2 linked regions of the Homo sapiens genome follow. The protein of the gene in region 1 interacts with the protein of each later gene in a biochemical or structural test. Each region holds a gene or a part of one and is shown on either strand. Other genes may lie near its edges.

Region 1 (5,067 bases):
GCAAAACCCTGTCTTTACAAAAAAATACAAAAACATTAGTTGGGCATGGTGGCACGCGTCTGTAGTCCCAACTACCCAGGAAGCTGGGGTAGGAGAATCACCTGAGCCCAGGAAGGTGAAGGCTGCAGTAAGACATGATAGTGATGGTGCCATGGCACTCCAGCCTGGACGACTGAGACACTGTCTCAAAAAAAAAAAAAAAAAAAAAAAAAACACGTATTGTTTGAGTTGGGAGCCTTAAAAGGTAGATACAACTTTTTGTAGAAGACTTGAAAGAAAACATACACCAGGCTGGCACGGTGGCTCACGCCTGTAATCCCAGCACTTTGGCAGGCCAAGGCAGGTGGATCACGAGGTCAAGAGATCGAGATCATCCTGGCTAACGTGGTGAAAACACCATCTCTACCAAAAATACAAAAATTAGCTGGGCGTGGTGGTGCACACCTCTAGTCCCAGCTACTCGGGAGGCTAAGGCAGGACAATCGCTTGCACCTGGGAGGCGGAGGTTGCAGTGAGCCAAGATTGTGCCACTGCACTCCAGCCTGGCAACAGAGTGAGACTCCATAAGAGAAGTATAAATTATAATACAGAGTTTTTAAAAAGATTCAAACCAAGGCCAGGCGTGGTGGCTCACGCCTGGAATCCCAGCACTTTGGGAGGCGGAGGCAGGCAGATCATGAGGTCAAGAGATCGAGACCATCCTGGCCAACATGGTGAAACCCCGTCTCTACTAAAAATACAAAAATTAGCTGGGCATGGTGGCACGTGCCTATAGTCCCAGCTACTTGGGAGGCCGAGGCAGGAGAATTGCTTGAACCTGGGAGGCAGAGGCTGCAGTGAGCCAAGATGGTGCCACTGCACTCCAGCCTGGCGACAGAGCAAGACTCTGTCACAAAAAAAAAAAAAAAAAAAAAAAAAGATTCAAACCAGACATACATAACTGTACATGCAAACATAATAGCCAAATAATTATTACTTTTCAGATATAATGAAGAAAGTGCAATACTTACTTGTCTGCAGTTTTGGTAACTTTTGGTATTAATTTGGGTGTTGAAGGTATTTTCGACAATTTATTACGGCTATCATCTGAATTTTCCCAAGAATTATGTGACTTTTCAGCTGGTGATGGTCGTTTTATGCTAGAAGGAACATTAATTTCTTAGAGAAAAATTCTGAGTATCAAAGACATGTAACTGACAATTTAAACAGAACACAAAAGCAGCAATTAACATTTCCTTAAAGCTAATCCAGAAAAGAGAAGGATTAGTTGAAAGACTGCCTGGATGAGTGAAGGAGTTAAACAAGGCAATTCCCAAATCTGTATTATAATTTTCTGTATCACTCAGAAGATTCACTAGAACAAATATTACCTGATTTTTTTTAAAAAACACTTTTGTTAACAGAAAAAAATTATTTCCTTACATCTGAGTAATGTTTCTTATAATTTGTAGTTACAAAAAAACCTGTATTTTTTCATAGCCATTGAATTTTATAAGGCTGCCATTTTCATTTTTTGTGCAATTATGTCCTCAGGTAATTACATTACATATGGTACAAATGACAATTTCTAAATATAACAAGGTATAAACTCTTGTTTATATCTTTAGGGACAATTTTACCAATGATCAGAAATAAACAAGACTTTATATAAGAATGTGGTTATTGGCAATCCTGATTCCCTATACTTATAAGTGAAATTTGTTTCTTTACAAATGATTTTTTCATTGCATTGCTAACTATCCTCAAACTCATCCAGTCTCCAATACTTCTTGCAACAGTATATCCAAAGAGCAATTTAGGAGGGCAAGCACATTTCCAGGAGACCTCAAGAAGCTGAAAAAAAGATGCTGGGACAAAGAAGATATCAAGTGAAATCAGAACCTTAAAGAGACTGATTATAAAAAGCCACCTTAAACCACACACAATCCAAAGTTATGTAACGTTAATAAGCTATATCCAAGAAAAACTCCACAGGAGACCAGGCAGATAAACTACAAACCATTTAGATTGGGTAAGAATCTGCATGAGACACACAGACAAAGCATTTTGTAAGTGGTAAACATGCATCGATCAAGTGAAGGGTATTTTGGTTTTCCCAATTTCCATTAGCGATTTGAGGCAAAATATTAAATTGATCAAATAAAAATTTAAATCTTTTAGGAATGGTTGTCATTTATTTTATTAAAATTCTAGCCAGTTCTGGAAATGGTTTAATAGTTTCCTAAGATTTCCAAGCAGAAGTACGATGATAAAATATGACTATTCCTAATCACAAGGCTTGAATAAGCATTTCTAAACAGGCAAATTTAATTAGATTGGTCTCAATATTTGATTAGGAGGCAGCTGTAGCACTGTACTCCCAGCATGCAGGTTTAGATTCTCAATTTAGGCTCACACACATTGTTAGAATATTTCTCCCTTTTCCCCTTCTCATAACTTTAAAATATTAATTATTACGGACACAGAAGCCCTCAAGCAAGCCTTTAGCATAGAAAAGACCAGGTGAAATGGATTCATTTCTCTACTCAAGCAAGAACTTATCCTCCCAAGACCCAAAACTGAAACTGAGATGCAGCCACAGTGAAGAGCCACTTGAGATGGGCCCTTGCAGGTTGAAGGTTGTAATGATGCCAAAATACAGTGAGGACAATTACATATGGCCATTTTCTATCCATGGCTATAAATTTATGCATAGTTACATACATATTTTAAAAGTATTCAAAAATGTGGTTAAGAAAATATTGTTTGGTTTTCGACTAGGTTATTCCTGCCTTCTTTTCATCAGATTGTTTATAACTTAGTTTTTTTTTTTTTTTTTTCCAGTTTTAACTGAGAAATTGTGACCTTAATTCTTTATTCCCCAATGGGCTATAAAGCATAAATTATAAGCAATGAAGAAGGGAAAAATAAAGCCACCAGCTTTTTCTCTCAGAATCCTTGGATAGCTAACTTTTTCCCAAGTCACAGAATTTAGGTATCATTACAACCATTCCCTAGCTCTGTACTTGGGGACAGTTAAAACCTTTTGGTGGGAGTAGCATTCTTGCTTTCTGGAGTTTGTCTGTGTATTTGGAGAGGTTGTGAAGAGGGCTGGGGAGAAGGTGATGCTCGAATTTGTGGACTTTGATCATTAGAATGAGATTCCTCTTTTTTTTCTCTCTGTCCTTGTGGTTTTTCTTTCTTTTTTTCTGTACCACTGTAAAATAAAGTATAACATGGAACAATACACATTTAAACAAATGAAAAAAAATCAAACGATAGAAAAGTGATTATTATATAATTCAAAACCCTAAGTCATACAGCTAATACAATTTGCACTGTTTTCATTCAATAAGGACAATATTTCTTTGAAAATTCCAGAAGCTATTAACATCTTCAGTAAAGAATTTATAAAAATTCTAAGGCGATACACCCCATGAAGATTGCCCCTTTAGACAGAAATGGTCTCTAATAAACTTTGCCATCTTGGCAGATTTTGGGGGACAAATGAAGGTCTCTTAACTGACCTCAAGTTACCCAAATCAGAGGACTATCTGTGTAAAGCATACCGACTGATGCCAAAAGAACACTAAATATTCATGTTTAATAGGTTATTCTCCAATTCCTGTTTTTTTTCTGTATACTTCTACTCCACTCAATTGAGTTTTAAACTTACCAAGAGTTTAAGTTTTCCCCAAGTCTGTTTATGCCAGTTGTTATTTTAATTATGTAAGTTAATTAAATACAAAGAGAATTGCAATTTCTATGAAAACTAAGTTTAATGTTCTAGAAAGACTACAAAAAAAATGAGTTATCAAAAAAATTGCTGTTAAATTTAGTGTGAGTGACACAATTTAAAAAATCACAGAGGCGGCTGGGCGCACTGGCTCACGCCTGTAATCCAAGCACTTTGGGAGGGCGAGGCAAGTATCACCTGAGGTCAGGAATTCAAGACCAGCCCAGGCAACATGGTGAAACCCCGTTTCTACTAAAAATACAAAAATTAGCTTGGCGCAGTGGCATGTGCCTGTAATCCCAGCTACTCGGGAGGCTGAGGCAGGAGAATCACTTGAGCCAGGGAGGCGGAGTTTGCAGTGAGCGGAGATTGCACCATTGCACTCCAGCCTGGATGACAGTGCGAGACTCCATCTCAAAAAACAAACAAATCACAGAGCCCGGGTGTGGTGGCTCACACCTGTAATCCCAGTACTTTGCGAGGCCAAGGCAGGAGGATTACTTGAGCCCAGGAGTTCAAGACCAGCCTGGGCAACAAAGTGAGACTCTGTCTCTTTAAAAAAAAAAAAAATTGGCCAGGCACAGTGGCTCACGCCTGTAATCCCAGCACTCTGGGAGGCCGAGGTGGGTGGATCACGAGGTTAGGAGATCAAGACCATCCTGCCTAACATGGTGAAATCCCGTCTCTACTAACAAATACAAAAAATTAGCTGGGTGTGGTGGTGGGCGCCTGTAGCCCCAGCTACTTGGGAGGTTGAGGCAGGAGAATGGTGTGAACCCAGGAGGCGGAGCTTGCAGTGAGCCGAGATTGCGCCACTGCACTCCAGCCTGGGTGACAGAGCGAGACGCCGTCTCAAAAAAAAAAAAAAAAAAAAAAAAAGAAAGAAAGAAACAAAATCATAGAAAGAGAGATGCGTTCTAACATACTCTTCTGCCAGAGTTTTAAATTTCTTACTCCTTTCATTTCTGAGAAATGAAACTAAAAATTTTAGAAAGTTATTTATGGATATATTTTATGAAAGACAGTCAACAAGGAATTTGATCAGAGATATATACTTAGAGGGTAGGTTTGGTCTTTCATTTAAAAAGTGATGAATGAATACAGGTGAATGTATCTTATGTTAAAATATTTCAGATATTTAAGTATAAATTCTTTTGATTATGTACTTTGACTCTTGGTTAATAAACCACCTGCTATTCCTAACCAGACTGGATAAGCATACTTATACTGAAAACACTCTTGACAATATTATAAAGCTGATGGAATCAAGACTTGAATTCCAGTGATGAAAAGGTAGGAAACTACTAAATGCCTATTTCTTTTCTCTGCCGCCCCCCTCCCCCTGTTTTTTT
Region 2 (5,067 bases), on another chromosome or scaffold:
TTTCTTTGATGCAATCAGCACGTGCTTTGGCATCCATTAAATCAAATATCTAAAAACAGAACCCAGAATTACTTAATAAAATAATAACCTATGGTTCAAGCTATTGTGTAAATTCATTTTAATACTCTACATGTAATTATTTGTACACTAAGGAATTTTCTTTCTGATTAGCTTTTCTTTATTAAGGAGTTCTGTAGGTATCTTATGTTACCAACATTGCTTACATTTTCAGCAGTCAGTATTTAAAAAATGGATAAAGAGAACAGGTAGATACCCCTTAACACTCAGGTCTTAAGTTCCAATGAACAAAATTAAAGTTGTGATTATTAAGATGATAAAGTAATAGCTAATATATGTTGAGCAATTAATATATGCTAAATGTACTGCACAACCTTATGAGGATGATAATAGTAGTATTCCCATTTTACAGATGAAGAAGAGAAGCTTTAGAAAGCTAAGGAGAATGACAAAAGGTCACACAGCTAATCAACAGAGCAAGCAGAATTCATTCTCAGAGTTATCCATCTAGAACCCAAGCACTGAACCATTAATCTGTTCCATCAAATCATGTCTAAAAGGTCTGATGCATGCATTCTTGACAAGGGTGATATCATTCCAAGGGGGTGAAAATTGGTTCTTTGTGGAGAAGGGTAACAAAATTTTACTCTATTAAGTATAAAGTATAGATACACATACAGTACTACACATAAACAGATATACTGTATTTGTGGAATTAAAATTTCATGGGTAGAGGTAATTAGGAAGAAATGTCTAAACAGGCAGCTTGGGGGGAGGATAATGAAGAAAAGGTTGAAAAATATTAACCTACTGTTAAAAACATAAAAATAAAAAATACAATCAAAAAGATATTTCATGTGTCTCTGAAAACACAAATCTCTCAAGGTTCTAAGTGTGTGGAAAATAACATTTAAAAAAGCAATATCTTAGAGACTGCAAAAAAAATCTAAGTCAGTACTGCAAGCTGATTAAAACCCTAGTTACATAACAAATAAAAAAATTAATGACATTTTTAGTAATCAGCTTGATCAAGTCTTCCTGATTCAGCCAGCTAACATTCCAGGAAAAGAAGGTACAATGTCAAAGGAGTGGCAGAATCCAAGTCTTTTTAATTAAAGAAGTAGTTATTAGACACTACCAGAGAGGGCTGGCCTCTTTACACATGATGCTTTAAACTTCATTGCAATCTTATAAGACAGGTAGTATTGGCCACAATAACAAGATGAGGATTGAGGCTCAAAAAGATTAAATAATATGCTTATGATCATAAAACTAGTAAAGGACAGAATCAGGACTTGAAGCCAGGTTGTTCTAGCTCCATAGTCAGTGTTTTCTCAATGAGCCAGGCTGTCACAAAGTCTAATGCATACACAACTAGCTAATAAGTATTAAAATATATGTGTGTACAAAGTGTAGTATTAGAAACCTAAGGAAGAAATTCCTTCCATGTAGGGTGGCGGGTACCATTAGAGGTGAACCTTGAAAGAATTATAGGATTCTGCCAGTCAGAAACAAAAGATATCTACTGCATAAAAGTAAATATGGAATAAGGGTGTAAAATTACAGCTTATAAGAGGCAACTTTTTCTAGATATCATTCTTAATATCCAAAGATACACAAAGTTCTAATTTGTCTTAATTTAAAAAACCATATGAAGATATTAGATAAGATTATAAAGCAAAAATAAAATCCATAAACTCACTGCCTTAAAGAATTTTAGCTTTGGCTCAGTCCCTTCTATTTCTTGTACAAACGCATGTGCTTTTTGCATAGTGAAAATAGCAGTATATAAAATGATATATATGCTTTTTCACTAACATTATTTTGGTTCTACTACTTCTAATGAAAACTTCAAGTATCAAATTTACGTTCTGCAACTTTTAATGTAAAATATTGAGCACTGCAGTTTAAGATTTGAAAAAATATAAAGCCTTACCTTACTTGATGGTTTACAAAAAGAGACAGACTAGATTACATCAAAGTTTCTCCCACTTAATCAAATAACAGAAGAAGAAATATGTATGCCGGTACATATATTAAAGAGAGTTAACTTCTCTTTTTTCCATTAGCAGTAATTCTAACCATGTCAGCCACAGTAAACTCATGTTAACTACCATGATTTCAGAATGGAACAGAATGCAACACGATGAAACAACAGCAAGGAAAGGAAAAGGGGTTAAAAAAAAAAAAGGAAAGGACTATGAGTGGCAAATCACTATCACAAAGTTCACATAAACTATCTAGTAAGATATGTTTTAGCTAACATTAAGCTGTTGTATACATTAAGCTTTGACAAAATGAGCTAGATATAAATGGACACCAATAGCAGGGGTTAAAAAAATTACCAGTATTAAAGAACAAACCATATGACACTATTTATGGAAGGAAGGAAAAACCTTGCAGAAATTTTCTCCAAGAGCATCATAGTTTTAACTCTACACACAAATTATTAATATGAATAACCTGATCCTGAGTACAGACAAGCTTAAACTGTTAATGCCCACCCTTTCTACATATAAAAATCCATGCTGAATGCCATCTTACTATCAGATTTTATTACAGATACAAATAAGAAAACCATCTTGCAGTCCTTTAAGATGCACAGTGTCAGATGCAGAATGCAGACTGCAACACAGAAAATTAACACGCAACTTGTAAGTGCTACTTGTTCAAAGTGATGTAAGAACCTTAATGGGGGTGAGCATGGCTGGCTGGAAGGGCTCTCAATAACTGATTTATATAAGCAGGAATGCGTAATGCCCTTCAGGAAAATATATATGTGTGTGTGTGTGTGAGTGTGTGTGTAAAATCGAAAGTTCTTGAACTGAAGGAATAAGCTTTACATTTAGCAATTTCACATAGAAATGCCATTCATTCCCCCAAAGGGATTATTATATCAACATGTTAAACAATAAAACAAACACTAATGGAAACAGAAAAATTTGAACTTGATATTAGTTATAGGTATGAAACACACACACACAGACTACTTGCACTTTAAATCAAAATGGCATGAGAAATAACTGATTCTTGACACATCATAAATGCTGATGCCATTCTCAGGAAATGCTATTTACAAGGAATTTGAGATAAATCAAAGATATACTGGAAAGCACAAAATTGTAAGTATATCAGATCTTGATGTAATTCCTGGTATTTTTGTTTGTTTGTTTTAGGAGGCAGAGAAAGAATAATGCCCATATAGTACCAGTAATTAAAATGAAGAAAATCACAAACTTGGAGACATATATGTATTTAATCTCTCAGTAATCAATGTCTCTATGATGTGGAACAACATTTTTAAAAACAAAAGAGGGTGAGTGAGATAAGAATGAATAATAGATGTATAAGAGTTTTAGGAAACCATAACAAGATACAACATATCAAGATAGAAACATGCTACATAGAAAATCTTTAATTCAAGTTATAAAAATTAATTTAGAATTACAAATTGACTTTTATTTTTAACTGAATTTTCAATAATATCAAAAGTCACTCCTCAAACACAGGGAGAAATAAGCATTGATGGCACATCTAAAGCAAAACTAAATTCTGAGCAAAATACATTTACAAATACATTTAACTGGAAATTCAGAAGTATCTTATCTTTCTTTTTCTCTCAGCCAACAAGTCAAGACAAAAATAAATAATAATGAATATTTAGATTACATCATTCCCAAACACAGATTCAAAGCTGTCCGATGATTTCATGAGCAAGAAAAAGCAGTATGTCTTGGGTGAAAATATGGACTTTGTAAGAATATCTTGCATATAATATGTACAAACAAGTCTTTAGGAGGCATCATTTTCATTCAGCTCCACCAAAGTTTCTTCAGGTTTTTAAACTCATTTTATACTTGGTAAGAGCAAGGGATGAGCTGTGGTTAGGCAAGTAATGACTGATAAATTCTTGGTATTCTCTGAATCATTTTAAAGGTTTTCTTTTGTCATCTTAAAATTTTGCCAAAATTACTCATAGCTAATGAAACTGAAAAGGTTAACACTAGATTTCTTTAAAAGGAAATGAAATCCTTCTAGTAACTTAACAGAAATATCCCCTTAAAAAGGCATATGTCAAATTGTTAGAAGAAAGACCATTTAAAATGCAGAAAACAAAGTACTTAAAAATATATACTAAGCAAGTTTTTGTTGTTGTTGTTTTTCTTTTTTGAGAGAGTCTTGCTTTGTCTCCAGGCTGGAGTGCAGTGGCGTGATCTTGGCTCACTGTAACCTCCACCTCCCGGGTTCAAGCGATTCTCCTGCCTCAGCCTCCCAGGTAGCTGGGACTACAGGCGTGTGCCACCACACCCAGCTAATTTTTGTATTTTTAGTAGAGACAGGGTTTCACCATGTTGGCCAGGATGGTCTTGATCTCTTGACTTCGTCATCTGCCCGCCTCAGCCTCCCAAAATGCTGGGATTACAGGCGTTGAGTCACCGTGCCCGGCTCTACAGCTGGAACCTTCCTGTCACTACCCTTCAGATGACTGACTCCTTATCCTCCACCTACGCTTAAATTTCACATCCTCGGAGAGGCCTTTGCTGCACACTCTATCTAAAATGCTCTCCTCCTCTAGTTTGTCTCTAATACCACAGCATGGTCATTTCCTTTTTGGCTATAATTATTTGATTTATTTTTTGCTATAATTATTTGATTTATTGTCTATTTTCCACACAAAAATGTTGGATTTAATTATTGTGTCCCACTATTGTGTCCCTATTGTCAAGTACAGTGTCTGCCATATAGTAGTTTAACCCCAAAATGTTAAACAATCCATAAAACTGGAAATTTTCTGTTTCTTATCTGCTTAGAAATGCTTAAGATTGCAAGTACAAGTAATTAAAATTAAAAAGCTTTAATTTTAAAGATAAAAGCCTATTCCACCTTGACAAGTAAAAACTAACATTAATTTACCAAATTGTTCTGTATCTTTTAAATGTCATTTATGAATTATTCTTACAAATGCTTAGTTTTCATTTATTCAAATAACAATTGGAAATCTGAAAGGAAGTCTATAGAGATTAAATGAAGTTCATAAAAGCTGCAAGA

The links.
Region 2: of the proteins of EML4 (region 1) and NEK7, one has a biochemical effect on the other in vitro, tested with the Homo sapiens proteins (one study listed by BioGRID).

Annotation. Positions count from the first base shown.
Region 1 is NC_000002.12:42,259,250-42,264,316, reverse strand, and holds part of EML4 (echinoderm microtubule-associated protein-like 4), read right to left. Parts: intron 3,197-5,067; coding exon 3,023-3,196; intron 1,140-3,022; coding exon 1,011-1,139; intron 1-1,010. UniProt on the Homo sapiens protein: Essential for the formation and stability of microtubules (MTs). Required for the organization of the mitotic spindle and for the proper attachment of kinetochores to MTs. Promotes the recruitment of NUDC to the mitotic spindle for mitotic progression.
Region 2 is NC_000001.11:198,257,557-198,262,623, reverse strand, and holds part of NEK7 (serine/threonine-protein kinase Nek7), read right to left. Parts: intron 50-5,067; coding exon 1-49. UniProt on the Homo sapiens protein: Protein kinase which plays an important role in mitotic cell cycle progression. Required for microtubule nucleation activity of the centrosome, robust mitotic spindle formation and cytokinesis.